Homo sapiens: one gene and its partners. The protein of the gene in region 1 purifies or fractionates together with the protein of each later gene. This does not show direct contact. Each region holds a gene or a part of one and is shown in the gene's direction. Other genes may lie near its edges.

Region 1 (3,607 bases):
TCATATAAGACTACAGGAGAGTAGAATTGATGCACCAGATGGTGTCGAATGAAAGTGGTACTTTGTAACAGACTATAAGTGCTGTAAATTCTAAAGGACAGGTTACTTTTGCCTGGAGTGGTCAAGAAAGATTTTATTTAAAATAAGGATTTGACGGGCAGACTTAGCAGTCAAAAGGGAGAAAGCGGGTAAAACAAATGTAAGCCATCATAAGAGTGCATGTGGTTTGGAAGCATCAGGGAAAAGACTAGCCAACCTGAAGTAAAAGGTTCGTGCAAATTGGGCAATCAATAGCATTAAGTTGGAAACAGCTTGGGGACAGACACATAAGAGGGCCAGAGTGTGAATAATTTCATCTAATACTTTATAGCACTTGGACATTTACAGAGCACTTTTCTCAATTCCTAAAATACCTTGGTAAATCAAAAGCATTCTCCATTTTAAAAATGAGAATACTCTTGCCTATGGAGATGGCAACATAGCTATAATCCCACACAAAGAAAAAGACCAGTAACCTAAGTGCAGGTCTTTTGACTTCTAGTCCTGGCCATTACTCTAGTGATCCTCCAACTTTGATGAACATCAAAATCATGTTTGGAGCTTGTTTAACATCCCTGAATCCCACTCACATTCTGCTTCATTAGGCCTAGGATGGGAGTTGAGAATCTTCATTTTTATAGCTCCACAGTTACTTAATATACTTTAAAATTTGAGAAGCGTTGAGTTGAATGACAGCTGACTTCATGGCTGTCTGCGAAGTGGGGAAGCCTGAACACAGTCCTATAAACTAAAGGCCACTGCAGACTTTTAGCACAAGGAGATCCTTACAGGGAACATGTGCCATCAGCTCTTTGGAGTGAACAAGGAATTAGACCCCCATCATGCCAAAAAACTAGGATTTTTAGGTGGTCTTTCCATCCCTTCAGATTTAAGTATTCAAAGAAAGAGAGACAGACCTACATTCCAAGGGTCTTCTGAGTGCAAGGCCTTGTGTTGTTTGTTTATTTAGGGGAGGGCCTGGTGCTCTTCTCTGTTTTATGCTTTACCTTCTTTTATTTCTCAGATCTCATGTTAGCACTATGTTCTGAATTCCCTAATAATGGCTCTTGAGAACTGATTTACATTTTGTTGGTTTGTTTACTTCTTGAGCACATAAAAGGACCCCAAATTAGAGATACTATCCCTTGGGCTTCTGAAAAATGAATCAACCAAAACTGGTTGACTCTAACCTTGCCTTGCTGAGTAAAAATTCTGCTTTGGATGAGAACCTGTCTTGATTATTTTAGTGGACAACAGATAAGCCACATGGAAGTACACATGGCTCCTGATCTGTCTTTTTATTTACAGAAATCATTCTTAATCTCTACTGAGATGGCCTGTTATTTCCTTCCTTTTCTACCCTGCCACAGCAAACTCCACAGTTTCTGGGACTAACTTCCTACTACACCCCAACACAACTCCAGTCCTCTCTTCTCTTCACACTTCTAGCTGGTTAGTGGGTTTGAAGTGGTGAGACAGTGACAAAAGGGGAAGGGGAAAAATAAAAGAAGGGTAATCTGCATTCTTCCTTAGTAAGTCCCACTCCTAATTACCTTTCTACACAGCCCTGTGTCTTTGTCCCATCTTCTCTTCACTCCTGTAATATACTCCCCAGCCCCATTTTCTTAGTGCCCCTGTCTCTTGCCTCTCTAGCCATAAACCCTGTATAGAATTTCATCCCTGGGTTGGAACTAGAAGCGTCTCTGGTCCTATAGGAATATTATGTTTCTAGCTAAGTTGTAAATATGAACACATATTCCCATAGAAGTCATAATGGTATAAGTATTATAATTCAGGTATATTAGGTGTCAAATTGGCTTCTGGGATTGGAACTTACATGACTTTCTGTGTGGAAAAACCTTCTTGAGTTCACAAGAGAGAAAGGCAAATGAACAGTTGAAAAACAACTTACTCATAAGTTGAGGACTGCTTAGTTAGGCTTTTTTCATAACCCCAGCATTGGAGTTGCACACATGAGGCACTGAGGCAACTGGGATTGGAAACCTAGTTTTTTTCCTCCAGGAAACAAGGAACCCAGAGTGAGTCTGGGAGCTCTGTAGCTCTAAGTATGTGAGGCCTGTGCTCTACCTAAGTTTACCCTGCCTCCCATTTCTCACATAATGAGAATGCAAACTTGTAACCAAACCAAGGTTCAGCTGCTTGCGGCTCCAAAGCCAAAACTCGGGAGAGAAGAAAATTGGTGCGAGGAAAAGCAGATTTATTCGGAGAGCCAGCAAACTGAGACGATGGTAGACTACTGTCCTAAAGTACCATCTTAAGTCAGTACAAATGTTGGGCTCGGCTCTTTTTATGTTAAGGGCAAAGGGAAGAGGACAGAGTTGGGATGAAGAGGTGACCTATGACCACAGACATCTGGGCGCCAGCAAGAGTCCAAGGAGGTTGGGAACTTCTTTGTCATTGGTTGGGTCACAATGCTCCTGCAAATCTTCAACAAAACATAATTGTTATACATACTTCTTTAATCCCAGAGTTAGTTTTTAAAACTACATGATTGCTGTTTTTGCATATTATCTCTGCTCTAAAATTAGCCTACATGGAGGAATAGGTAAAGGGTCCTTAAACAAAAATGGAGTTAGTTATGGTAGTTCTTTTGCTGTTTCACTGTTAGAAACTCTTCTCAGTGGAGGGGACTTTACTTAGTGATGAGAACCTGTGTGAGAATGTTCTCCTTACCAAACATGCTATGCATACTCCTTATCTAATCTGATTTTATAGACTTGTTATCCAAACTGAAATTACTGTTCATAGTAACTTCAGAGCCTCTCTTTTAATCTGACTGCTCGCTGGAATGCAATCGTTGTTTTAAACTTGCCTTCTACTCCTCTGAGTGCCTTTACTTGGGGTCTTTCCAGTTCATTTTCTGCTTAATATGTTCTGTCATTGCGCACATTCCTCCATTTGCCTTTCTGCACACTACTTAATCTTTCTTATATACCTAATATTATAAAGGGACCATAAACAAAGACTCAGAACAATGGAATATGCCTATTATAGGAGGGTACAGTTCATACTTGTTTAAAAATAAATGTGGAGGCTGGGTGCAGTGGCTCACACTTATAATCCCAGCACTTTGGGAGGCCGAGGTGGGCGGATCACGAGGTCAGGAGGTTGAGACCATCTTGACAATGTGGTGAAACCCCATCTCCACTAAAAATACAAAAATTAACCAGGCGTGGTGGCACATGCCTGTAATCCCAGCTACTCGAGAGGCTGAGGCAGGAGAATCGCTTGAATCCGGGAGGTGGAGGTTGCAGTGAGCTGAGATGGCACCACTGCTCTCCCGCCTGGTGACAGAGCAAGACTCCATCTCAACAAAAATTAAAATAAAAATAAAAATACACGTGGGGGTTTTGTTCTGGTTATTTCTCATGCTTAAATACAGTTGTAGTACCAAAAAAAGGTGGAGTGACATGGAATTTCCAGGTAGGCATCAAAGAGGATTAAACTAGCTTTCCAGGATAAAGAGGAAATATAGTAGAATAAGGCTACTAATTGGAGCTAAATTGGCAATATAGGCAAATTGAAGGCCCTGAGGGGCAAATGGAGG
Region 2 (4,009 bases), on another chromosome or scaffold:
GTTCAAGTGATCCTCCTGCTTCAGCCCCCCAAAACACTGGGAATACAGGTGTGAGCCACCCTGCCCAGCCCCTTTCCTTACCTTTCTCTCTGACTTTGCCTCCTCCTCTTCTTGTTGTTTCAGAACAAAGGGACCCCGGTGAAACAGTAGGTGGAGATGAGATTGTGATGGTCATCAAAGACAGCCCACAAACCATCCCAACATACACAGATGCCTTGCACGTTTATTCCACGGTAGAGGGTATGAGCTCCCAGCTGGCCCAGGGATCCCTCTGCTCTTCCCCCTCTCCTGCCACTCCCAACTCCTGAACCTCTCCTCCAGGACCCACGCCCTTCCAGGATCCCCTCTACCTACCCTCTGAAGCTCCCCCGAACCCACCTCTCTGGAATTCCCAGGATACATCGCCTACCGACATGATCAGAAAGGCTCATGCTTTATCCAGACCCTGGTGGATGTGTTCACGAAGAGGAAAGGACATATCTTGGAACTTCTGACAGAGGTGAGTTGACAAAAGGTAGCTGGGACCACCGCCCAGGCCAAGAAGGGTGCAGGCGGAGGGGGCTGAGCCTCCTCCTAACCCCTCTCCATTTCCCTCAGCTCCAAATCCAAGCCAGATCTCAATACAGAAACTAAGAAGCCCACTTTCCAACAACTTTCCCAAATGCAGGGACTCTTAAAAGCCACAGTATGGGAGATAAATTTCTATAAACAAATCCCCCTTGGATATAAACAATGTTTGGGCAAACTGTTTTCTTTTAATGTTTATATGTTTTTATTGCAAATTATTTAAAAAATGCCCAGCCAAGGATTCCATACAAACTATGGTATAGGAAGAGGCCACAACGGTCTCTCATCTTAGGACAAGAATACCCACCTGCCCCGTTCCCTAACCCTCCCCCCATAAGTCCATGACACTGACTCCTCCAAGCTCACCACACCTGTTGCTGCAGGTGACCCGGCGGATGGCAGAAGCAGAGCTGGTTCAAGAAGGAAAAGCAAGGAAAACGAACCCTGAAATCCAAAGCACCCTCCGGAAACGGCTGTATCTGCAGTAGAAGTAGAAAGACCAGGAGGAGCTTTCCTTCCAGCATTCTTTCTGTCTCACAGAAATTTAGAGGCAGCTCTTACCTCTCCCCAAGATCTTCTGTTCCCAAGGCCAAATGGCACCCAGTTTCTTTTCCATCACACCCTTCATGCAGGTCCTCCTGTCCTTATTAGAGCAAGCCAGCCAAAACTTAGCACAAGGCATGGTGGCAACATTAACATCACCTCCCTCAGGCTGGACTTTCTATCTTTATTAATGCAACCGAAGAGACCTAAGAGTGCATTCACTTATCCCACTTTCTGTTCCTGTGGTCTTCTTTCTCCCATGAAGCAGAAACTGGATAAAGCTCAAGATTTTCCATAGACAAACCAAAGCCCACTCATCCCCTCCTACCCCAATCCAACCTCTGCTGGCTCCTGCATCTCACTTGGAGGTCAAACCTCCTCCTGAGGCCAATGCATTCCCAACTTCCAGTTCTTTCCTTTACCCTGGAGAGTTAGTAAGGTAAGAACCATTCTTTCTCTCCAAAACCACTCCTCCTTGGCTGGCAAGTTGGTGTCCTAACTCCGTTCTCTTCCTAGCTCATGGCCTCTCTAGATAATAAAGTTGTCTCCTCCTTTCTGGATCTCTTCCTCCTAACACCCCTCCCCTGAAACCCTGGACTCTGCCCTCTCTCCAAGAAAATCCATCTATTCAACTATTCTTGCATTCAATTACTCTAAATGAGAGCGTGTTGGAGCTATGGCAAATTCCCTGTTGTCACCTTGCTATTTTGCAGACAACATAATATTTAACCTCTCATAACCAGAGAGGTTAAATAATTTGTCAAATGCAATACAGTAAGACAGAGGCAAGGACAAGGTTTGACTTCCAGCCCAGCCTCTTTTCCACAACCTGCTAAATCCTGATCCATCTGAAAACTTTTCTAATTAGTGAAGATGACTAATAAAAATTTTCCCTATCTCCAAGGTAGGAGCTTTCTGGAAGTTTCTAGAAATTTTCAATAACCACCAGCCAAGGTTACCTCCAGGTAACCTTGCAGCACCAGGCTGGAAGTCAGATCGGCTTCACTATCTTCCAACTCTACAGCCTGTATCTCTCCATCCCCAGCTTTGACCTTTCCTGCTCAAGTAACCTACGGGCACATCCAGCGTCACTAAAAACTCAGGGCTTTTCTTCCCGGTTACTCCTCCAAGCGTTCCCTGGTATCCTCAACCTCAGATCCCAGGTTCAGATTTCTGCAGTCAATCTATGACCCCTCTCTTCTTGCATCCTTCATATGCCACCAGACACCATGCCCAGTCCAGCCTGATTTTGAAACAACTTTCATGCCGGTCTTCTCTTCCCTGACATGTTACTGTCCAGGCTCAAGTCCTCAGCTTCTCATATCTGCATCTTTGCAACCAACTTCCTCCCTTGCCTCTCTGCTTTTCCATCCCACTTTTCATGTGTCCTCCATACCATCTATAACAGTGATCTCCCTGGAACACTCAAGAAGACACAACATACCATATTATTTAAAGACCAGGGTACTGGACAGTGGCTCACACCTGTATTCCCGACTTTGAGAGTCTGAAGCGGGAGGATCACTTGAGGCCAGGAGTTAAGAGACCAGCCTGGGCAACACAGCAAGACCCTGTCTCTAAAAAAAAAAATTAATTAACTGGGTATGGTGGCACATGCCTGTAGTCCCAGCTACTCAGGAGGCTGAGGTGGGAGGATGACTTGAGCCCAGGAGTTTGAGGCTGCAAGGAGCTATGATCATGCCAGTGCATCCCAGCTCTAGGTGAGACAGTGAGATCCGGTCTCCAAAATAAATCAATCAATCAAATAAAGACCAAAGTCAAACCGCACATCAGGATCTCTCACACCCTTCCAATTTTGCCATCTACCAGCACTTAGCTAAACCCATCTCCCATCTCTTCCACCATGAATTCACTCTTTCAAAAAGGCTAATGTCTTCTTACTCACCCTTGCCTCTAAGCCTTTGCTATCACCATTTCCCCCAAGCTGGAGGGCCCTCCCTCTCCCTTTACCCCTCTTCCACTACCTCCCACCCCTACTTTTTCCAGAAAGCCATTTCCTCTCTTTTTTCTGATTGATCCTTCCCTCTCACCCAGGATTAGATGCTGGAAATGACCACTTCTGGAGGGCAGGGAACAAGCCCTTAATCTGCATAATGAGTGTTCAATAAACAGTTGTCAAACTTTGAAAGAAAGTGTTGAAATCTTTGTTCTGTGCTGAAACAGTGAGGCTGATACAAAAGGAGTTATGGATTTAATTTCTTTTTTCCCAGTGGCTGGCTTCCTCCCAGGTGTGTCTATCATGAATGGAGAATCAGGAGCTTCAGCCTGTGTCTTCTTTCCTTTTTTTTTTCTTTAAGAGATGAGATCTTGCTCTGCCACCCAGGCTGGAGTACAGTGGCACCATCATAGCTCACTGCACCCTCGACCTCCTGGGCTCAAGCAATCCTCCCACCTCAGCCTCTCATGTAGCTGGGACTACAGGTGTGCATCACCACACCTGGCTAATTTTCTTATTTTTCGGTAGAGATTGGGTCTTGCTATGTTGCCGAGGCTGGTCTCACAGTCCTGGTCTCAAGCAATCCTCTTGCCTTGGCCTCCCAAAGTGCTGAGATTACAGATGTGACCCACCACACCGAGCTCCTGTCTCTTTCACAAAAACAGACGTGTTGGGAATTTGTAAAGTTACAGGCCACACTTTCATGCTGAATGGCTATCTTTTACATAATTGTTCCATCTCCAGAATGTTTCCAAGGAAGTATGCAGACAGAAAAATGTCACTTTTCAGAACTATAAGGGACATTGGAGGTGGGCTAGTTACAGCATCAAAGACATTTAGCAAGTGTGCCATCTCTCTAGCCTGGTGCCCATGGCAGACATGACTAATCAATCACACCTATTTTTCCTAATGAACTCAAGTGTTACCTCAAAGCCTTTCTCC
Region 3 (3,461 bases), on another chromosome or scaffold:
CAGAGGTGAGGGTCACCTGTCCAATCAGAGGCCAGGAGGGAACGTTCCCTTTTAAGACCCTACTCTAGGCAGGCCTGGCCCAAATGAGTTGCTAGGAGCCCACGCCCTAAGAACCCTCTGAGCACTGTTGTGGCTGGTCCTGCTGCTAGAAGTTGTTCCTCCAGGGCCAGGTGCAAGATTTGTGGCTTTTCAAAGGAGCCACTAAAGCTCCAGCTCAGCCTTGCACCGTGCTGGGCTCCTGGGGGCTTCCTGCCTCCAACCCTCCCAACTCTTCCATCACCGCTCCCTTAGCCTGGCCAGTGCAGGGATCTGTTCCACTCTAGGCACTGCTGAGGGAATGATGCCTCCAGTCAGAGGGTGCAAAAAAGAGAGTTAAGAAAAACAATGATTATAAAAAGTCCTTTTTATACGCCAGACATTTTCTTTGCTCAGGCTAAGTGCTACTTATTTGAGTAAGCATTTTAGTTCTCATAACTCCTCTCTCAAGTAGGTGCTGCTATTACTTTCATTTCACAGATGAGGACATTGAGGTTTGGAGAGACTTAGTAACTTGTCCTCTGTCCTACAGCAGAGCTGGGATTTGAATCTATCTGTCCAAATCTGGAACCCATTTGCTTGCACAGAAAGCTTAATTGCTTGTCCCAGCAAGATAGAAAGCCTGGGAGTGGAAGAAATATTCAGTGGCTGTGATGTCTGAGCCCACAGGCAGGGTGGAGAGCTAGGGCTGGGGCCCTTGGACGTGGGGAAGAAAGGGCTGAGTCTTCCATTTTCAATGTGAAGTGTTGATATCTGGTGATATTGATCTAGGTCCAAAGGTGAAGAACTTAAACCCGAAGAAATTCAGCATTCATGACCAGGATCACAAAGTACTGGTCCTGGACTCTGGGAATCTCATAGCAGTTCCAGATAAAAACTACATACGCCCAGGTGACTCTCAGTTTTGGCTGTGTTTTCTGCCTCCACCTAGCAGGGGTAAGGCCTCCTGCTAGGTGGGCTCAACTCCATGCTATACCATGCCCCATCTCCAGCAGGTGGTGGAAGCGAGGAGGAGAGGCCCCAGGGACTAGGGCATCAGATGAAGGGTCTCTAGCAATGACCAGATCTGAAAGTAGTCTTTCTGGAAGGGCTGGAGAAAAAGAAGGAGGCAGACACTTAGACTGGAAGAAGAGGAGGCTTAAACCAGTGTGATGGAGGGAGAAGTGGACCACAGAGTCAAGGGAGAGGGACTGTGCATCAGGCCTGAAACCCCAGCAGACAGGAGAGACCTTTCCCTGCTCTCAGAACCCACACATGTTCTGACTGTCTTTTTCCAGAGATCTTCTTTGCATTAGCCTCATCCTTGAGCTCAGCCTCTGCGGAGAAAGGAAGTCCGATTCTCCTGGGGGTCTCTAAAGGGGAGTTTTGTCTCTACTGTGACAAGGATAAAGGACAAAGTCATCCATCCCTTCAGCTGAAGGTGAGAGTTCTAGCTCAGTTTCCTGGGCCTTTGGCTACCCCAAAGTAAAAGGCCAAGATCCTCAATGCCTCTCGCTTTCCTGCAAATTCTTATCTTGGCCAATATAACAGGGACATCCACCTTTCTGGAAGCACCAGGCAGAAGAGCCCCATAACTTCTTCTCTGGTTCCTTGCCCCTTCTAGGGAAGGAGGAGAGACTCCTCACAGCGGGGAGACAGCAAGGAGCTGAGCACCTGTTCTCCTCTCCTGGGCTCACTGGTCCTGGCCCTGGGCGGGTGGCGGTCCCCTCCTGCTGTGGCCCTCCATGTGGCAAGCAACACAATTGGGCCAGGACCCTGGCGTGCTGCTGTAGGGTAGGAGGGTGTGAGGGAGCACTCGGAGGGCAGTGTGTCTGCCCTGCAAATTTAGTCCTGGATGGAGCACCTTTCACTTGAGGGGAGAAATCTTAGGAAGCTGAATTAGATACAGATCTAAGCCATATTCTCTAATTTTAAAAACTATAGAGCTGAGATTTTGGTATCCATCTGACTCTTACGTCTCTCTCTCTCTCTCTCTCTCAGTTTATTTTTAATCTGGGGGACAAGAAGGCCTGGAAAAGAGGGCAGGATTGCTTATCATCCCTTAAATACCAGTACCAAGGCTGACACGTCATCTTTCCCAAGGACCATCTGCCTTCTCTCTTTTCCTCCTCTCCTGTGTAAAGGCCTGGAGGATGAGCACATGTGCTGTGTTTTCCTCCCTCTCAAAGCCTGTGCTATCTAATTAATCCCTTTTACCTCACAGAAGGAGAAACTGATGAAGCTGGCTGCCCAAAAGGAATCAGCACGCCGGCCCTTCATCTTTTATAGGGCTCAGGTGGGCTCCTGGAACATGCTGGAGTCGGCGGCTCACCCCGGATGGTTCATCTGCACCTCCTGCAATTGTAATGAGCCTGTTGGGGTGACAGATAAATTTGAGAACAGGAAACACATTGAATTTTCATTTCAACCAGTTTGCAAAGCTGAAATGAGCCCCAGTGAGGTCAGCGATTAGGAAACTGCCCCATTGAACGCCTTCCTCGCTAATTTGAACTAATTGTATAAAAACACCAAACCTGCTCACTAAACTTTCTGTCATTGGGTTTCATTTCTCATTCATGCTTTAAGGATTTGTGTTTTTAGGATATAGCAAGAAGCTTGTTTAATTACAAAGTTCTGGGTTGGAAAGAGACCGGCTTCTGCTTGTGTACTGCTACCCTGAACCATCAGACATGCATGTGTGTGTCATATGCTATGATGTGGCCAGTCTGAGTGCAATACTTGCAGTGGGAAGGAGCAGCTGGGTGCATGCTGTGCTCTAGAATTAGTCTTTCCTACTGGGGTTTGGTAGATTCTGAGGGCATTGATCCTGGGGCAGAAGTGGCTGAGTCTGTGTCTAGGGTACAGTGTGCAAGAAAGAAATGTAACAGCAAGTCACAATCCAGCCAAGTGATAGTGGAAAAGGGGTAGTTAGGTCCCAGATAAGGAGCAGGGTGACTTGACCTGTGGGAAAGGCACAGAGACAAGGAATCTGGGTCAGATGACAGCCAGGAGACCAGGTGAGGGAGGAGCCAGGTACTGTCTGGGAGGCTTGTCAACAAGGGCATGGTCCTATCACTAAGCAGGGCTCAGATCCTCATAATGGGGGAGTGGAAGGCTGGCCGAACAGAAATCAGGGCCTGGAAACAGAGTGAGGGGGTGGAGACAGGAGACTGAGGCTTGGAAATTAGTTTATTAGTTTTAGCTCTTCAGTTACAAGCAATAATAATAGCTTCTAGCTTATTTAAGCAACAAGTATACTACAAAAGGAGCTTTCTAGAAGGATATTGGGTATATTCATTTCTTACTGCTGCTGTAACAAATTACCACCAACTTAGTGGTTTAAACAATGCAATGTATTATCTTGCAGTTATGGAGGTCAGTCTGGAATGTGTCTCACTGGGCCAAAATCAAAGTATCAGCAGGATAGCATTGCTTTGGGAGGCTCT
Region 4 (4,352 bases), on another chromosome or scaffold:
TCTCTGGGCCTCTGTTTGCCTGCCTGTATAGTGGGAGGATTGCTACCGTTGGGGATGATGAGGGTGTAATTAGACTCCTGAGATTTCAGGGTTGAAAACAGACCTGATGGGTAAGGGAGGAGAATAGAGTAGGGGTTTGGGCCCCTGAGTCAGGCTGCCTTATAACCCCTCTGTGCCCAGTTTTCCCATCTGTAAAGTGGAGCCAGTGATAGTACTTACCTTGCAGGGTCGTTGTCAGGTTATGTGAGAAAATATAAGCAGGGCATTGAATTCACTGCCAGGCACATAATAAGTGTGCAAAAAAAAAAAAAAATTCCCTTGATGGACAGAACATGTGGGGCCTATTTTACAGAGATTACTGAGGTGATGGTGACTTCCCCAAGGTTCCTGGTGAGAGGTAGAATGGCCAGTCATGTGCTGGGGGTTTGGGCAGGGCAAGAGGTAGCCCAGAGGACCCAGGTGGGGCTGTCTGTGGCCTGCCCTGCTCCCCAGTGTCTGCCCAGCCCACTGCCTGCACTCAGTCCCTGTCCCCATGGCCCCCAGGTGATCTGGAGTACCAGATGTCCACAACAGCCAGGGCCAAACGGGTGCGGGAGGCCATGTGCCCTGGTGTGTCAGGCGAGGACAGCTCGCTTCTGCTGGCCACCCAGGTGGAGGGGCAGGCCACCAACCTGCAGCGACTGGCCGAGCCGTCCCAGCTGCTCAAGTCGGCCATTGTGCATCTCATCAACTACCAGGACGATGCCGAGCTGGCCACTCGCGCCCTGCCCGAGCTCACCAAACTGCTCAACGACGAGGACCCGGTCTGTGAGGGTCCCTGCTAGGGTGGGGGCTGGGCAGGGAGGGGAGAGAGCAGATGTCCTCAGGGGAGGGACATTGTAGGGGTGGAGGGAGGTTATGACCCAGACTCTCCCGTGTGTGATGAGTCTGACTGGGGCCCTCCTCAGCTCTGTGGAAGGGTATCCCGGCCTCTCCTTAGTGCTCACGTCCCCGCCCCTGCCTTTGCCCTCCAGGTGGTGGTGACCAAGGCGGCCATGATTGTGAACCAGCTGTCGAAGAAGGAGGCGTCGCGGCGGGCCCTGATGGGCTCGCCCCAGCTGGTGGCCGCTGTCGTGCGTACCATGCAGAATACCAGCGACCTGGACACAGCCCGCTGCACCACCAGCATCCTGCACAACCTCTCCCACCACCGGGAGGGGCTGCTCGCCATCTTCAAGTCGGGTGGCATCCCTGCTCTGGTCCGCATGCTCAGGTACCCAACCCTGCTCACTGCATGAGCCCAGGACCCCCTCTCACTTGGGCCTCTCCCCTCCCTTCCCTGAGCTTCCATAAATATCCAGTGAGCACCTACTATGTGCCAGGCAGAAGCACACCCCATCCGGGTGCTCGGTGGCTCACAGCCCAGCAGGGAACACAGGCATGTAAACAGCAGGTTAATGATCAGGATACGACACAGGCTATGGCAGAAGAGCATTGAGATTGCTCAAAGGTGGAATCGCTTAATGGCAGGGGATTGACAGATGAGTGGAGTTTGGCTAGTGCAGAGGAAGGGAAGAGTGTCCCAGGCAGAGGGAACAGCAAATGCAAAGTCCCTTGCAAACTTTCTGTTTCCTGGCCCCCTACAAAATGTGGATTGGCCTCATTTCTTTTTTTTTTTTTGAGATGAGGCCTTGCTCTGTCACCCAAGCTGGAGTGCAGTGGCGTGATCTCAGCTCACTGCAGCCTCCACCTCCTGGGTTCGAATGATTCTCCTGCCTCAGTCTCCTGAGTAGCTGGGATTACAAGCATCTGCCACCATACCTAGCTATTTTTTTTTGTTTTGAGATGGAGTTTTCCTCCTGTTGCCCAGGCTGGAGTGCAATGGCACAGTCTCGGCTTACTGCAACCTCTGCCTCCCGGGTTCAAGAGATTCTCCTGCCTCAGCCTCCCAAGTAGCAGGGATTACAGGCACCCACGACCATGCCTGGCTAATTTTTGTATTTTTAGTAAAAATGGGGTTTCACCATGTTGGCCAGGCTAGTCTTGAACTCCTGACCTCAGGTGATCTGCCCCCCTTGGCCTCCCAAAGTGCTGGGATTATAGGCGTCTGCCACCATGCCCAGCTCAATTTTGTATTTTTAGTAGAGACGGGGTTTCACCACGTTGGCCAGGCTGGTTTCGAACTCCTAACCTCAGGGTGATCCACCTGCCTCAGCCTCCCCAAGCGCTGAGTTTACAGACGTGAGCCACTGCTCCTGGCCTTATTTCTCATTCCCATACCAGGCTGGAAGCTCCCTGAAGGGGAGACACTGATTTCACTCCCCTCTGAACGCCTTGCAAGGCCTCTCTAATATGTGGCCTTCCACATGGTGGTTACTTAGTAGGGATCAGTGTCTAGGGGACCTACTGTGCGCTCAGCACAGGGCTGGGGACTCAGAAGCAGGAGGAGTCATTGTCCCAGTTGGGAGAAGAGAGGTGCTGTTTGCTTCATGCTTAAGAGCAGGGCAGGCTCAAGGAGTGATGAGATTTTAGCAAAGGGATATTTCCAGAGGGGCGTCAGTAGCGGGGAGGCTTCCTGGGGGAGGTGGGAACCCATGCCAGGCTCACATGTATGCCAGGCCTCTGGGACCTCAGCGTACTAACCCCTGCCCACCCCCCCAGCTCCCCTGTGGAGTCGGTCCTGTTCTATGCCATCACCACGCTGCACAACCTGCTCCTGTACCAGGAGGGCGCCAAGATGGCCGTGCGCCTGGCCGACGGGCTGCAAAAGATGGTGCCCCTGCTCAACAAGAACAACCCCAAGTTCCTGGCCATCACCACCGACTGCCTGCAGCTCCTGGCCTACGGCAACCAGGAGAGCAAGGTGGGCCCTCCCCAACTCTCCCGAGGCCTGAAGCCCACCCTTGCGCCATCTTCTATCCTGCACAGCCTTGGGCCGCTGCCCCCTTACTCCTTTTAGATGAGATATAGGTGCAGATATACATGCTTCATCATGCGACTGAATTGCCCAGAATTATTATTTTGAGGATAAGGGAAAAAAAAAATCACTCATCCTCATATAGCCACTATTGTCATTTCGATGTGCTTCCTTAAGAGCTGTTCTGTGGGCAGATTACAGATGTGTACACATCCTTGTCATCATAACAATCTGCAATATTGCATCTGTTTTCTGCCTGATTTTTTTTTTTTTTTTTTGAGACAGGGTCTCACTCTGTCACACAGGCTAGAGTGCAGTGGTGTAATCAGGGCTCACTGCAGCCTTGACTTCCTGGGCTCAGATGATCCTCCTACCTCAGCCTCCAGAGTAGCTGGGACTTCAGGCGTGTGCTACCACGCCCGACTAATTTTTTTTTTCCTTTTCTTTTCTTTCTTTTTTTTTTTTTGTTTGAGATGGAGTCTCACTTTGTCGCCCAGGCAGGAGTGCAATGGCACGATCTCGGCTCACTGCAACCTTCGCCTCCCGGGTTCAAGCGATTCTCCTGCTTCAGCCTCCCAAGTAGCTAGGATTACAGGTGCCCGCCACCACACCCAGCTAATTTTTGTATTTTTAGTAGAGACAAGGTTTCACCACATTGGCCAGGCTGGTCTCGAACTCTTGACCTTAGGTTGTCCATCTGCCTCGGCCTCATAAAATGCTGGGATTACAGGCATGAGACACCGTGCCCCACCCCCAACTAATTTTTTATAGAGATGGGATTTCTCCATGTTGCCCAGGCTGGTCTCAAACTCCTGGGCTCAAGTGATCTGCCTGCCTTGGCCTCCCAAAGTATCAGGATTACAGGTGTGAGCCACTGTGCCTGGCCTGTATGATGTTTAAAAAAAATTTTTTTTTGCTATATTGTCCTCAAAACCACCCTCTAATAATGACAGATTGCCTTTCCTTTCCCCTTTCCCCCTCCCCTTTCCTTTTTCCTTTTCCTTTTCCTTTTCCTTTCCCTCTCTTCCTCTCTTTCTTCCTTCCTTCCCATTCTTTCCTTTTCTTTCTTTTTTGAGACAGGGTCTCACTGTGTTACCCAGGCTAGAGTGCAGTGGCATGATCCTAGCTCACTGCATCCTCAAACTCCTGAGCTCAAGCATTCCTCCCATCTTAGTCTTCCTGATAGCTAGGACTATGAGAACATACTACTGAGCTAATTAGCACCCGGGCTAAGTTTTAAATTTTTTGTGGGGATGGTGTCTTGCTCTGTTGCCCAGGCTACCCTCAAGGAATCCTCCTGCTTCAGCCTCCGAAATGCTGGGATTAAAGTCATGGGCCACCATACCCAGCCTACAGATAGCATTTCATTAAGTGGAGACCTCAGGCTTTATTCTGAGGGAGGGTATTTAGATTGCTCCTATTCCACCTTTATAAACAATGCTGTAATGAATGTCTA
Region 5 (4,335 bases), on another chromosome or scaffold:
AGCTGGGGTCCAGAATGGGGCTCGAATGGCTATGTAAAAATAGCCAAAGACAAGAACAACCACTGTGGAATCGCCACAGCAGCCAGCTACCCCAATGTGTGAGCTGATGGATGGTGAGGAGGAAGGACTTAAGGACAGCATGTCTGGGGAAATTTTATCTTGAAACTGACCAAACGCTTATTGTGTAAGATAAACCAGTTGAATCATTGAGGATCCAAGTTGAGATTTTAATTCTGTGACATTTTTACAAGGGTAAAATGTTACCACTACTTTAATTATTGTTATACACAGCTTTATGATATCAAAGACTCATTGCTTAATTCTAAGACTTTTGAATTTTCATTTTTTAAAAAGATGTACAAAACAGTTTGAAATAAATTTTAATTCGTATATAAAGGTGGGCCTTTTTTTAATGCATTGGCTTTTTGTGTAGTCAGGAAATATAATTAAGCTCTGAAATAATAACTTCATGTGCCAATGGTATGTTAGGAGAAAGATGCTAGCAGAAAGCTGGCTTCCTGGCTCTTGAGTAGTTATAAAAATACAGACTTTATATCAGCTGCCCAGTTACTGTGTGTTACCCAACTCCTGAATCTACCAAAATTTGATAAACAATTTGGAAGGACAAACCTACATTTTTTTTTTTTATGAGACGGAGTCTCTCTCACTCTGTCACCAAGGCTGGAGTGCAGTAGTGTGATCTCAGCTCACTGCAACCTCTGCCTCCCGGGTTTAAGCAATTCTCTGCCTCAGCCTCCCGAGTAGCTGGGATTACAGGCGCGTGCCACCACGCCTAGTGTATTTTTAGTAGAGAGAGGGTTTCACCATCTTGGCCAGGCTGGTCTTGAACTCTCGACCTCGTGATCCACCTGCCTCAGCCTCCCAAAGTGTTGGGATTACAGATGTGAGCCACTGCGCCCAGCCCCTAAATTGTTTTAGTAAAGAAGAAAGCAGTTGACTTTTTAGAAAAGGAAATGTCTTCTTCCTTTGACACATAACCTCAAGATGGTTAGGTTACGTGATAAAAAGTGAAGCTGCTTGTTACTGGAGCCTCTCTGAATTGCTGGTGACCACTTTGCAGTCTGAGGAAGACGCAGGTGCAAGTAAGTTACCAAGGGTATTTTGTTTTCATTCCAAGTCTCTGATGACATATTCCACCTAGCTCTTCTAGAAAAGCTTATTTGTTAACTAGTGTTAGCAAAAATAAATGGTGTGGTTAACAAATCTCAGGCATTTGACAGTAGCTGGAGAAATTTGTTCAAGGTCCACAAGAGATGAGGCTGGGCTACAAAAAGAGGCCTCTGGCCGAAGATGGATAAGAGATCACAAGTGAAAGGTCAGAAGTCACTAGGCCAGACTCTGGCTACCTAATCCCTGAATTAAAAATAAACTCAAAATGGGGGGAAAAAGGCTAAGCATATAGTTACACAGGTAGTAAATACAAATAAAACGATATTTTTGCATATTTAAAATACTGGAAGAAAGTACACCAAACTTGTGGGTGAATTATGGGTGGTTATTTAACTCGTTTAGTGAAAAGCATGTATTTTTATGAGCAGGAGAAAATAGTAAAGATATACCCACATTCTGCAGGCTAAAGGAGAGCCCTGTGTGTGTTTTAAAAGCCCATGTTTCCAGTCAAATAAAAAATTACCGGGGATGAGCTGGTGAAATTTAATCGAAAGGTGATCCATTGTGAATGCAATGGGAGGGAAGGGGCATGTGGGACTGTGTATCCCAAAAACCCTTTGATAGCCTATGTCCACAGCCATCTCTGGAAAATCCAGTCTACCATATTCAGTCTTGAGTTTTCTCTGAGAAAGGATTCCTTCGTCTTTGCAGCAGCAGGCTAAGTTGGTACTCTCCACAGATTCTTGGAACAACAACCCAGGCTCTAAGGAAACATCTAGGCACTAAATTGAATGAAAGAGTGATGGCTTTTTATTCAAATAAAAAAATTTCAAATCTGTCAAAACAGCACCCCTCGGAAAACTAAAATAGAGATATTTCAAGATTTTATAATTTTCAAAGACCTTTGAAATATTTTAAACTTGTGAAAAGTTACAAACCTGATGTGTTGTCTAAAAGCGTTTTTCAAACAAGCCAGTAGACTTGAAAAATCTAGTCTGAAGCACAGACTTAACCAATATTTGCTGGGGATATGCCCCCAAATCTGGCCATAAACAAAATCTCTGCAGTACTGTGACAGGTTCATGATGGCCATGACGCCATGCTGAAGGTTTACCGGAATGAGAGCAAGGAACACCTGGACCACCCAGGGCGGGAAAACGGCTTAAAGGCGTTCCTAAACTACAAACAATAGCATGAGCGATCTGTGCCTTAAGGACATGTTCCTGCTGCAGATAACTAGCCAGACCCCATGCCTTTGTTTCGTTTGGGAAGGAATACTTTTAGTTAATCTATAATCTATAGAAACAATGTTTATCACTGGCTTGCTGTCAATAAACATGGGTAAATCTCTGTTCGGGGCTCTCAGCTCTGAAAGCTGTGAGTCCCCTGATTTCCCACTCTGCATGCTATATTTCTGGGTGTGTGTCTTTAATTTCTCTAGCGCCTCTGGGTTAGGGTCTCCATGACCAAGCTGGTCTCGGCAAATATTTCCTATACTCGAACATCTAAATTGTTTGTTTTCTTACTTGAATTGCAAAGGAAGTAAGGAAGGGTGAGATAGAAATCACTGAGCATATTAAGAGGGAGGAGTTTGCTGATGTGGGAGTGTAGTTATGACACTTGGGCATCATACTAGAGGCTATGGACTTAGCAATAAGGAAACATCCACTCAGCCCTATGTGTGGTTCATGTGTATGTTTTGCCTATGAAAGTTGAAACTGTTTTCTAAATGTTATTTCCTTTTGTAACTGATAAAATTTCTAAAAAGCAAAGAAGAAACTTTTCTGTATTAAAAATAACAAACATTAGTAAATGTATATATACAGTCATGTGTTGCTTAATGATGGGGATACATTCTGAGAAATGTGTCTTGGGTGATTTCATCGTGACGTGAACATCATAGAGTACACTGACACAAACCTAGATGGTATAGCCTATTACACACCTAGGCTATATGGTACAGCCTGTTGCTCCTAAGCTACGCACCTGTGCAACACATCACTGTGCTGAGTACTGTACACAGTTGTAACACAGTGGTAAGTATTCGTGTATCTGAACAGAAAAGTACAGTAAAAATATAGGATCATAATTTTATGGGACCACTATCATATATGCAGTCACTGACCAAAACATCACACAGCACATGACTTGTGTGTATGGATATCTCAATTGTAAACAATTTCACAAATGTTCATTATCTCTTTTTAAGTAAGTTAATAAGTAAAACTATTACTAAGCTGCAACGTGTTCTTGTTCTGCAGTGTATTTATTCATTTGGATACAGTTGATTCTTGAACAATGCAGAGGTTAGGGGCACCAACCCTTGTGCAGCCAAATATTTGCATATAACTTTAATTCCTCCAGAACTTTTCTACTAATAGCCTACTGTTGACTGGAAGCCTTGCTGATAACATAAACAGCCAATTAACACATATTTTGTGTATGTATTGTAAAATACTGTATGCTTACAGTAAGCTAGAGGAAAAAATGTCATTAAGAAAATCATGGCCAGGCACGGTGGCTCACACTTGTAATCCCAGTGCTTTGAGAGGCCGAGGCAGGCAGATCACGAGGTCATGAGATCAAGACCATCCTGCCTAACATGGTGAAACCCCATCTCTAATAAAAATACAAAAACAAAATTAGCCGGGCGTTGTGGCCGACACCTGTATTCGCAGCTACTCAGGAGACTGAGGCGGGAGAATGGCGTGAACCCGGGAGGCGGAGCTTGCGGTGAGCCAAGATCGCGCCACTGCACTCCAGCCTGGGCAACAGAGCGAGACTCCGTCTCAAAAAAAAAAAAAAGGCAATCACAAGGAAGATAAATTATATTTACTAAGTGAAAGTAGATCATCATAAAGGTCTTTATCGCTGTTGTCTTCACATTGAATAGGCTGAGGAGGAGGAGTAAGAAGCAGGGTTGGAGTTGCTGTCTTGGGTTGCAAAGGCGGAAGAAAATCTGTGTATAAGTAAGTGGACCGTCAGTTCAAACCCATGTTGTTCAAGGATCTACTATTTATTGGGCTCCTATGCAATAGCACTGTGCTAGGCTCTGGGGACACGAGTGAAGCAAATAGTCACACTCCCTCCCTTGCTTACATCCTTATGTTGCTGAGCCCATGCATAACCTCTATTCTTGCCACCATGGCCACTTCGTTCGTGAACCCCAGGGTGGCTGGGGAAAGAGGCTGACTGGTATCCAGA
Region 6 (4,383 bases), about 21 Mb from region 1:
GAGTATTATATTTATGGACAGCTGTTTTTGTCTTTAGTTTTACAAACTGAAAACCTCTTTTGCAAAGTTACTTAAGTCATTTCCTTTTTTTGTCCACATCACCTGTAGTAAAATTTCCACATCACATGTAGTAAAATTTCCTATATATTACGATACAGTTAGGCTTATCTGTCAGAGGCTACATTATATAATACGATTCCCTAACACTCTGGATCATATTTTTTATTTGCATTCATTAAAGTTTACTCTCTACAACGTACGATTCTATGAATTTTGACAAGTGCATAGAATGTTGTATCCACCACTCCAGTACCTCATAGAAAAGTTTACCACACTAAAAATCCTCCTGTGTATCCCCATTATAGTTGACCACGCTCTCTTAACCTGTAGCAACCACTGATATGTTTTCCATCCCTATAGTTTTGCCTTTTATCAAATGTCATACAAATGGAATTATACAATAACTACAAAATTTTTTTGCCTGGCGTCTTTCAGTTAGTAAGGCACATTTAAGTTTTATCCAGGGCTTTTGTGTAAGTAAATAGCTTGTTTCTTTTCTTTTTTTAAAAAATAATATTCCATTGCATGGATATATCACAGTTTATTTATTTATTACTTGAAGAATATACAATTTTGGTAATTATTAATAAAACTGCTCTAAACGTTTGTTTACAGAAGTTTGAGAGAATACAGGTTTTTGATGTCCTTGGATGAATATCTAGAAATAGGATTGATGACTTGTATGGTAAGTCTATGCATATTTCTAAGAAATTGCCAAGCTGTTTCCCAAAATGTCTGTAGCATATTTCATTCCTGGGAGCAACAAATGAGAGTTTCTGTTACTATATATTTTAACACCATTTAAGTTTGCTTTTAAATGCTGTTGACTCGATGTTCAACATTGAGGAACCGATAAACTGTTTTTTAAAGTGGCTGCACCATTAGACATTCCTATCAGCAATAAATGAGGATTCCAATTTGTCCACTTCTTTCTCAACACTTGTTTTTATTTTTTATTTTAGCCATCTTAATAGGAGATGCCTCAAATATATTTCTGTCAAAGCCTTCATTTTACATATTTAGTTCACTCAACTTATGGAGTAGAATGAAAAAAACTGTAAAGCCAATTTTCATTACTAAACCAACTAGCCACATACATTTGCTTTCTCCAAAAATAGAATATCTTACTCACTTTCAATTCTAATATATGTTTTCATCTTCATGAAAACCATGCATTTATTTTTCAGCTCAATTTCTAAGTTGTACAGGTAGGAAAGCAAACAGAGAGGAGACAAAAAATAAGGAGCCTCATCATAACATTGTAGTCTGAAAGAAATGTCACCATTACTTTCAGCACTTGTTACTGATACTCTCTTTGCTATGATCTTATGGGATTCTCCTGCAGAAGTGACCAAACATTCTTTCATGGTAGTCTGAAAATGGAAGAAGCAAAGTAATGAAAATATGACAGCATTCCCACCACGTCCCAGAATAGATCTAAAGATGAAGACTAACAACAAGCCACATCCTCAAAGAAATATTTATCAAGACAAGGAAAAAACAGAACTATACTATCCTGACTTGAATAAGCAAGGTTTCATATGAAAATCATTATTTCAAATATTCCTTTTATTTGGCACTGCAGAGGTTTTTACATATCAAAATGGTTAAGATTTGACATGAATGAGGTGTATGTAGGTTTGCGGGGGTGGGGGTGGAGTTCTTTTTGTTTTGTTTTTAATAATAAAAGCAACTGTTAACCGAGCTGTGGGGTGGGGGCAAAAAGAGCCAGAAGGCGGCGCACACCTCAGGACTATTCTTGTTTTTTTAGAACCATTCTTATTCTGGGGTTTCTTCACCTACCCAAGTCTCGCCTGAAGCCAGGTACAGCTCTATTCCACTACATGACCCTCTGCCCAGGAAGTTGGAATCTTCACCTAGCAACACAGTTCAGATCGAGATTGACAGGACCATGAGCCAATCACAAAGCTAGATTTGCTTTCCAGTCTAACAGTGGCCGTTGTGCTGGAGACAGTGAGGAGAAGAAAGGGGCGGGACAAGGGCAAAGGCGTTAGAAGTCACCACCGACCCAGCCCCTCAACAGCAAGTTGGTTCTTCAGCATTAAGATCCAGGTGTCAGCCTATGTCTTTATATTGTCAAGATGTCTCTTTCTAAGAAGTTGACTTTAGACAAACTGGATGTTAGAGGGAAGCGAGTCATCATGAGAGTAGACTTCAATGTTCCCATGAAGAAGAACCAGATTACAAACAACCAGAGGATCAAGGCTTCCATCCCAAGCATCAAGTACTGCCTGGACAATGGAGCCAAGGCAGTAGTTCTTATGAGTCATCTAGGTCGGCCTGATGGTGTTCCCATGCCTGACAAATATTCCTTAGCACCTGTTGCTGTTGAGCTCAAATCCTTGCTGGGCAAGGATGTTCTGTTCCTGAAGGACTGTGTAGGCGCAGAAGTGGAGAAAGCCTGTGCCAACCCAGCTCCTGGTTCAGTCATCCTGCTGGAGAACCTGCGCTTTCATGTGGAGGAAGAAGGGAAGGGCCAAGATCCCTCTGGAAAGAAGATTAAAGCTGAGCCAGATAAAATAGAAGCCTTCCGAGCATCACTTTCCAAGCTAGGGGACGTCTATGTCAATGATGCTTTTGGCACTGCACACCGCGCTCATAGTTCCATGGTGGGAGTGAATCTGCCCCATAAAGCATCCGGATTCTTGATGAAGAAGGAACTAGATTACTTTGCTAAAGCCTTGGAAAACCCAGTGAGACCCTTTCTGGCTATACTTGGTGGAGCCAAAGTGGCAGACAAGATCCAACTTATCAAAAATATGCTGGACAAAGTCAATGAGATGATTATTGGTGGTGGAATGGCTTATACCTTCCTTAAGGTACTCAACAACATGGAGATTGGTGCTTCCCTGTTTGATGAAGAGGGAGCCAAGATCGTTAAAGATATCATGGCCAAAGCACAAAAGAATGGTGTAAGGATTACTTTTCCTGTTGATTTTGTTACTGGGGACAAGTTTGACGAGAACGCTCAGGTTGGAAAAGCCACTGTAGCATCTGGCATATCTCCTGGCTGGATGGGTTTGGACTGTGGTCCTGAGAGCAACAAGAATCATGCTCAAGTTGTGGCTCAAGCAAGGCTAATTGTTTGGAATGGGCCGTTAGGAGTATTTGAATGGGATGCCTTTGCTAAGGGAACCAAAGCCCTCATGGATGAAATTGTGAAAGCCACTTCCAAGGGCTGCATCACTGTTATAGGGGGTGGAGACACTGCTACTTGCTGTGCCAAATGGAACACTGAAGATAAAGTCAGCCATGTCAGCACTGGAGGCGGTGCCAGTCTAGAGCTTCTGGAAGGTAAAATCCTTCCTGGAGTAGAGGCCCTCAGCAACATGTAGTTAATATAGTGTTACTTCCTTCTGTTTTCTGTCCATGGCCCTTAAGTCAGCTTAATGCTTTTACATCTCGATGTGACTTTTGTTAAAATCTACTCCTAGATCAAGACCTATGTAATGGACAAGCAGCAGGCCATCAGGAACTCTTAATATCAGCACAGCAATTCATTTTAGTTTGGTCACGCATTTGCCTGTTCAAGTTCTCATTTGAACTTCACCATTGTGCTATCTAGGGAGGACATATTCTTAAGTTGCCTATTAAAGAAAGTGAGCTGAAGAAACTGAATCTTTTTATTTTAGTCCAACTTTGCTATTGTTTCATAATTTGAAACCCAAAAGATAAAACTTAATTTGTTGGGAAAGGGTGGAATGAAAGTTGACAAACAAACAATAAATATGCCCAAATAAACTGAGAAAAATAATTACATATAAAGAACTCATGGGTACCATTAAAGTTCTGCTAAGGGGAAATGTTATACTAAATAGGACCAAAAAAAAGAGAAATGAAAGACACTTATTAAACCCAAGGAATTTTTAAAAAGAAAAGAAATTAAACTCAAGGTAAGAATTATGTTTGTGTGCATATCAATGCACAAGATTACACACAAATGCCAGCTAGAAAAAGAGCTACAAGTTAAACCCAAGTTGTAAATAAGTAATTGTTTTATTTTTAAGGCAGGCATTATTTAATAAATAGATAATATAACTGGTAAGTTCTAAAACTTGGTTTTTGAGATAAATAAAATATATATACATAGCTGGTTTAATAATGGGAAAATAGAGATAAAAATTCTCTATTAGAAAACAGAAGATAAAATGATAAGAAATGTAGAAAAAACAAAAACACTTATTGGAAAATATTTTGCTTTATTCTGTAGACAGAGGTAGTTTAGGGCAATGCTATTAACAAGAATAGTAATTAAGAGTAAAAATGCAGATTAACCTTTCCCAGCTATAATGTCTTATGTCC
Region 7 (4,352 bases), on another chromosome or scaffold:
CTAGTAAACAACTTGATAGAACCTCAACAATTAGATAAAACATGCATTATTATGTTTATTGTACAAATTGTACGATGTACAAATAAAGACAATATTCATTGTGTATTATTTATCTGTTAAACAAATAAGGAAATTGAGACTCGAATAGCTCAAAATAACTTGCCTATTTAGTACAGCTGGTTAGTGAATGCCCTGAGTTTAAAAACCAGCTCCTGATATTTTCATTACATCAGCTATCTCCCTTAATTAACTTTCGATATTCATGATTTCAGTTTAAATTAGTTCACATTTTTTATTTCAACAAAACATTTGATGATTACCCTTACTGTATATTTTCCCATTCTAATGTTCCATTATCAGAATGGAAAATATCAAAAATACATTAGAGGACAAAAATAGTTTTCCCTCTAGTTTTCAAGGTCTTGCTCAGAAATAATCCTAGAATTCAGGGTATATATTAAGTTTTTAAGGTTTTCTTTCTTTCAAAGGAGAATAACACCTTTTGAGCTTCTGCCTTCCCTTCTTTCTTTACTGCACTGAGCTACTCAAAAGCATTTTCACTAAAGTAAATAACTGAGACATTTAGGCCATTTGCACATCATCTGATTTAACTCTGAAAACAGCTTATATATAAAACTGCCCTTTCTGCACATGTACCCCAGAACTTAAAGTATATATATATATAGTATATATAATATAATATATATAAATATGAATAAAATATATTTATATATATATATACTTTAAGTTCTGGGGTACATGTGCAGAAAGGGCAGTTTTGTTACATAGGTATAAACGGGCAATGGTGGTTTGCTGCACCCATCAACCCGTCACCTACATTAGGTATTTCTCCTAATGTTATCCGTCCCCTAGGTCCCCATCTTCTGACAGGCCCCTGTGTGTGATGTTCCCCTGAAAACAGCTTTTTTAACAAATAGGTGGAAATAAGATATACTTTTATGAATAATGAATTCTCTAGGGAAACCAGAGTTTCCTAGCTCAGATTTAGTGTGTACAAAGGTATGGACAATTATCTCAAGTGATGTAATGAAATTATCCCCAAGCCCACATAATTATAAACCAAATTCTTTTTCATTTCTTTTTTTTTTTTTTTTGAGACAGAGTCTCGCTCTGTCGCCCAGCCTGGAGCACAGTGGCACGATCTCGGCTCACGGCAAGCTCTGCCTCCCAGGTTCACGCCATTCTCCTGCCTCAGCCTCCTGAGTAGCTGGGAATATAGGCGCCCGCCACCACACCCGGCTATTTTTTTGTATTTTTAGTAGAGACGGGTTTTCACCATGTTAGCCAGGATGGTCTCGATTTCCTGACCTCGTGATCCGCCCACCTCAGCCTCCCAAAGTGCTGGGATTACAGGCGTGAGCCACCACGCCCGGCCCCAAATTCTTTTTCACCAGACTCTACTTAAAGTTGCCAATAAAGTATAATGTTTGTGTATATAGCAAGTCTGACCCACAGGAATAAACGACTCAACAAAATGCTGAATATTTTATCAGAAAAAGTAAGGTCTTCCTGCAAAATTGAAGAGATTAGATGATATGAGCATTAAACAAAAATTCAATGGTTTATTGAGTTTTAGAGGCTTGTGAGTACACTCTGTAAATGTACCACGCGTTTTACAAATTCTATTGAGTTTATGGAAACTTAAATTATCTAATCAAGGCTGTTCTCTCACACAGCTACTTGTGGGTGGGTGTCTTATTTTCAGGCCTCCAAAGTTGCTTTTGACACTGAATAATTTTAAAAGTCCCAGTATTTGACCTTCTGTTATAAGGACTAGTCAAACTTAACCATATAATTAGGTTACACAACTTGAAAAACAGAAAATATAATGAAGCAAGCAATAAACGTGGCAAAATATGGTGATTAAGAGCATGAGTTCTGGAGTCATGCTGAGTTGGAATTCCAGCACCTTAGCATTAGCTGTGTAATCTCCATCTGGTTACCTATCCTACCTCTGTCTAACTTCACTTGTTTATGTAATGGGGTTATAATAGTATCTTCTTTATGGGGTTATTTTGAGTGTTAAAGAGAATGATCTATGTAACATGTTTGGCACAGAAAGCTATTAATAGGTGTTAGTCATCATTATAATCATCATCAAAAGGAAAACAATACTGACAAGTTTAAAAAATTTGAAATTGTTTTGTTTGTATGGAAAAATAAGTTGGGAATGGTCTCTTATATTCACAGAACGTCAGAAACAAACTTAAAGATCCTCTAATCCACACTCGCCCACACCCATATCCCATTTCTCATTTCTCACATGAGGAAACAAATCTCAGAGAGAGAACATGAGTTGACCAGTATTACAAAAGTGGCTAGTAGTATAAATGGGAATAAAATCCAGGTCTGCTGACTCCAAGTCTAGCACTTTTTCCACTATGTCATGATAACCACCACCACCCCATTATCGCCTTCAATTATTTGGTCATCAGGAATGTGGGGCTGTGGCACAAAAGGCATAAAAACAAAAACATTGACTGTTCATTGAATTTAATAGTTTCAACATGAAGGATTTAGGTAAGCTATACACAGATGAGTAACAAAATTAAACACTGACTGATACAGGTTATTAAGAGGGAGATTTGGATTGTTATTCCTGGAGTGCTTTTAAAACTAAGATCTCCTTTTCATTCATTCTTTCAAAAATATTTTGGATCACTTTCTATGGAATGGTCAATGGCTATTTATGGGATGACTTGCTGCAATCTTGCCTAGATCTTGATGCCATTGAAAGTACCTTTCAACATCAAGGTTTTGTTCATTCTGGACATTTACTCACACCATCTTACTTAATTTTGTAGACTTCCAGGGAAAAGGGGTTTTCTTTAGCAAGTATTTCTGGAATTAATAAACCTATTTTCAGAGAGGTTTTCCCCCTTATGATCAGCCTAAATCCATACTGATGCAATTTAAATTCATGCTGTTCAACACCATATGTCTAAATATCTTTGACTCATATTAAGCTACATCTTAATGTTGTAATTTTTGAACCTATTATATTTGTTCTCTAATGTTTCCATGAGGGTTGCGTGGGAAAGCCACATTTGTCTAGATGATCAATTTTAATAATGAAGGCTGAAGTAGGGCTAAAAATAATTGAGTACATTATAATCTATGGACTTAATGTTCCAGCTTTCCACATATAAGAAGATTAAAGAATTCCTTCATTTTAGGGCAAGACTAGTCTTTGCTCAAATACAACTGTTTGCCATTTAAACATCTATTATCTTAACATCTGAATAAAGTAATACTGCTTATACTAGCATAAATAAATGTCTTTATCTGTGATGTGTGATGTGTGTGTATTCCTATTTGTTTAAATTTCTGCAGATTTATAAAACTTCTTAGTACGCTTTTGTATCTTAAAAGCTAGTCCAGTTGGCTAGTAAGATTTGCTATGTTTCATTTGCTAATGCCATCATATTTGAATTGGTTACAAGAAGGACAGAGCTATCATTTCTACAACAGCTACCAGATACTAACCATGTGTATAGTTGTCTTCTCAGAATGATACTAGTATAATATTATTAGCCCCAGCCTAAACAGACCAAACATCCTCTAGACATGAATACCTTCACACACTGCTGGTGGATGTATAATTATCATAGTCAAATTTGGGAAATTAGTTGGGCAGTATCTGTTCAAATGAATAACACACATACTCCATGCCCCAGCAATCCCAATTCTGTGTGGGATTCTAAAGAAACATGTTGCACAAGGATGCTCATTGCAGCACAGTGGAAACCTGGAAACAATATAAATGTTAATCAGCAGGAAAACATAAAAACAAGCTATAAAGCAAGCATTTTGGAATACTATTAATTGAAAATAATGAGTTAAAACATGTATCTAGTACATAATACAAGAGATACTGTTTGGTTTAAGTTGTAGAACAATGAAAGCAATAATATTACTATTTATACATAGGTATATATGTAAAGACATCTTAACTGACAACAATAGTCACTTCTGGGTAAGTGAATGGAGGAAAGATGGTCAAGAGAAGGTCTTTAACCTTATCTATATAAATGTTTATATTAAGAATGTGTTCATGTGTTATTCCATAACTAAAGAGCACCCCTCTTTTTTCTTGTCTTCTTGAATCTGCTCCTCTTGGGTCTGTGGGCCAAACCTGCCTGCACATGGTTGTATTTATAACCATTTTCCTAAACTGGATAATGTGTACCTGTTTTGTCTATAATCTGTAATTCTCTGCATTTGTCTGAGCAAGTCTTCTCAATTATTAGCAGAAAATCTGAGAATATATGCAAAAGATTCCTAGAAATACTGAGCCTGCAGTATTGCTGTTGATATAAAGGGTGGTGGAG

What was found.
Region 2: the proteins of ZSCAN12 (region 1) and CASP14 purify together in Homo sapiens (affinity purification with mass spectrometry; one large-scale study listed by BioGRID and IntAct). This does not show direct contact.
Region 3: the proteins of ZSCAN12 (region 1) and IL37 purify together in Homo sapiens (affinity purification with mass spectrometry; one large-scale study listed by BioGRID and IntAct). This does not show direct contact.
Region 4: the proteins of ZSCAN12 (region 1) and JUP purify together in Homo sapiens (affinity purification with mass spectrometry; one large-scale study listed by BioGRID and IntAct). This does not show direct contact.
Region 5: the proteins of ZSCAN12 (region 1) and CTSV purify together in Homo sapiens (affinity purification with mass spectrometry; 2 studies listed by BioGRID and IntAct, with this or other methods). This does not show direct contact.
Region 6: the proteins of ZSCAN12 (region 1) and PGK2 purify together in Homo sapiens (affinity purification with mass spectrometry; 2 studies listed by BioGRID and IntAct, with this or other methods). This does not show direct contact.
Region 7: the proteins of ZSCAN12 (region 1) and POF1B purify together in Homo sapiens (affinity purification with mass spectrometry; one large-scale study listed by BioGRID and IntAct). This does not show direct contact.

The regions. Positions count from the first base shown.
Region 1 is NC_000006.12:28,386,610-28,390,216, reverse strand, and holds part of ZSCAN12 (zinc finger and SCAN domain-containing protein 12), read left to right. Parts: 3' UTR 1-3,607. UniProt on the Homo sapiens protein: May be involved in transcriptional regulation.
Region 2 is NC_000019.10:15,055,035-15,059,043, forward strand, and holds the end of CASP14 (caspase-14 precursor), read left to right. Parts: intron 1-123; coding exon 124-240; intron 241-321; coding exon of another isoform or gene 322-395; coding exon 396-499; intron 500-950; coding exon 951-1,055; 3' UTR 1,056-3,259; downstream 3,260-4,009. UniProt on the Homo sapiens protein: Non-apoptotic caspase involved in epidermal differentiation. Is the predominant caspase in epidermal stratum corneum. Seems to play a role in keratinocyte differentiation and is required for cornification.
Region 3 is NC_000002.12:112,916,322-112,919,782, forward strand, and holds the end of IL37 (interleukin-37), read left to right. Parts: intron 1-807; coding exon 808-927; intron 928-1,313; coding exon 1,314-1,456; intron 1,457-2,239; coding exon 2,240-2,488; 3' UTR 2,489-2,561; downstream 2,562-3,461. UniProt on the Homo sapiens protein: Immune regulatory cytokine that acts as a suppressor of innate inflammatory and immune responses involved in curbing excessive inflammation.
Region 4 is NC_000017.11:41,765,869-41,770,220, reverse strand, and holds part of JUP (junction plakoglobin), read left to right. Parts: intron 1-543; coding exon 544-803; intron 804-1,013; coding exon 1,014-1,252; intron 1,253-2,640; coding exon 2,641-2,842; intron 2,843-4,352. UniProt on the Homo sapiens protein: Common junctional plaque protein. The membrane-associated plaques are architectural elements in an important strategic position to influence the arrangement and function of both the cytoskeleton and the cells within the tissue.
Region 5 is NC_000009.12:97,028,716-97,033,050, reverse strand, and holds the end of CTSV (cathepsin L2 preproprotein), read left to right. Parts: intron 1-2; coding exon 3-102; 3' UTR 103-3,374; downstream 3,375-4,335. UniProt on the Homo sapiens protein: Cysteine protease. May have an important role in corneal physiology.
Region 6 is NC_000006.12:49,784,967-49,789,349, reverse strand, and holds PGK2 (phosphoglycerate kinase 2), read left to right. Parts: upstream 1-2,064; 5' UTR 2,065-2,162; coding exon 2,163-3,416; 3' UTR 3,417-3,690; downstream 3,691-4,383. UniProt on the Homo sapiens protein: Essential for sperm motility and male fertility. Not required for the completion of spermatogenesis.
Region 7 is NC_000023.11:85,369,107-85,373,458, reverse strand, and holds part of POF1B (protein POF1B), read left to right. Parts: intron 1-4,352. UniProt on the Homo sapiens protein: Plays a key role in the organization of epithelial monolayers by regulating the actin cytoskeleton. May be involved in ovary development.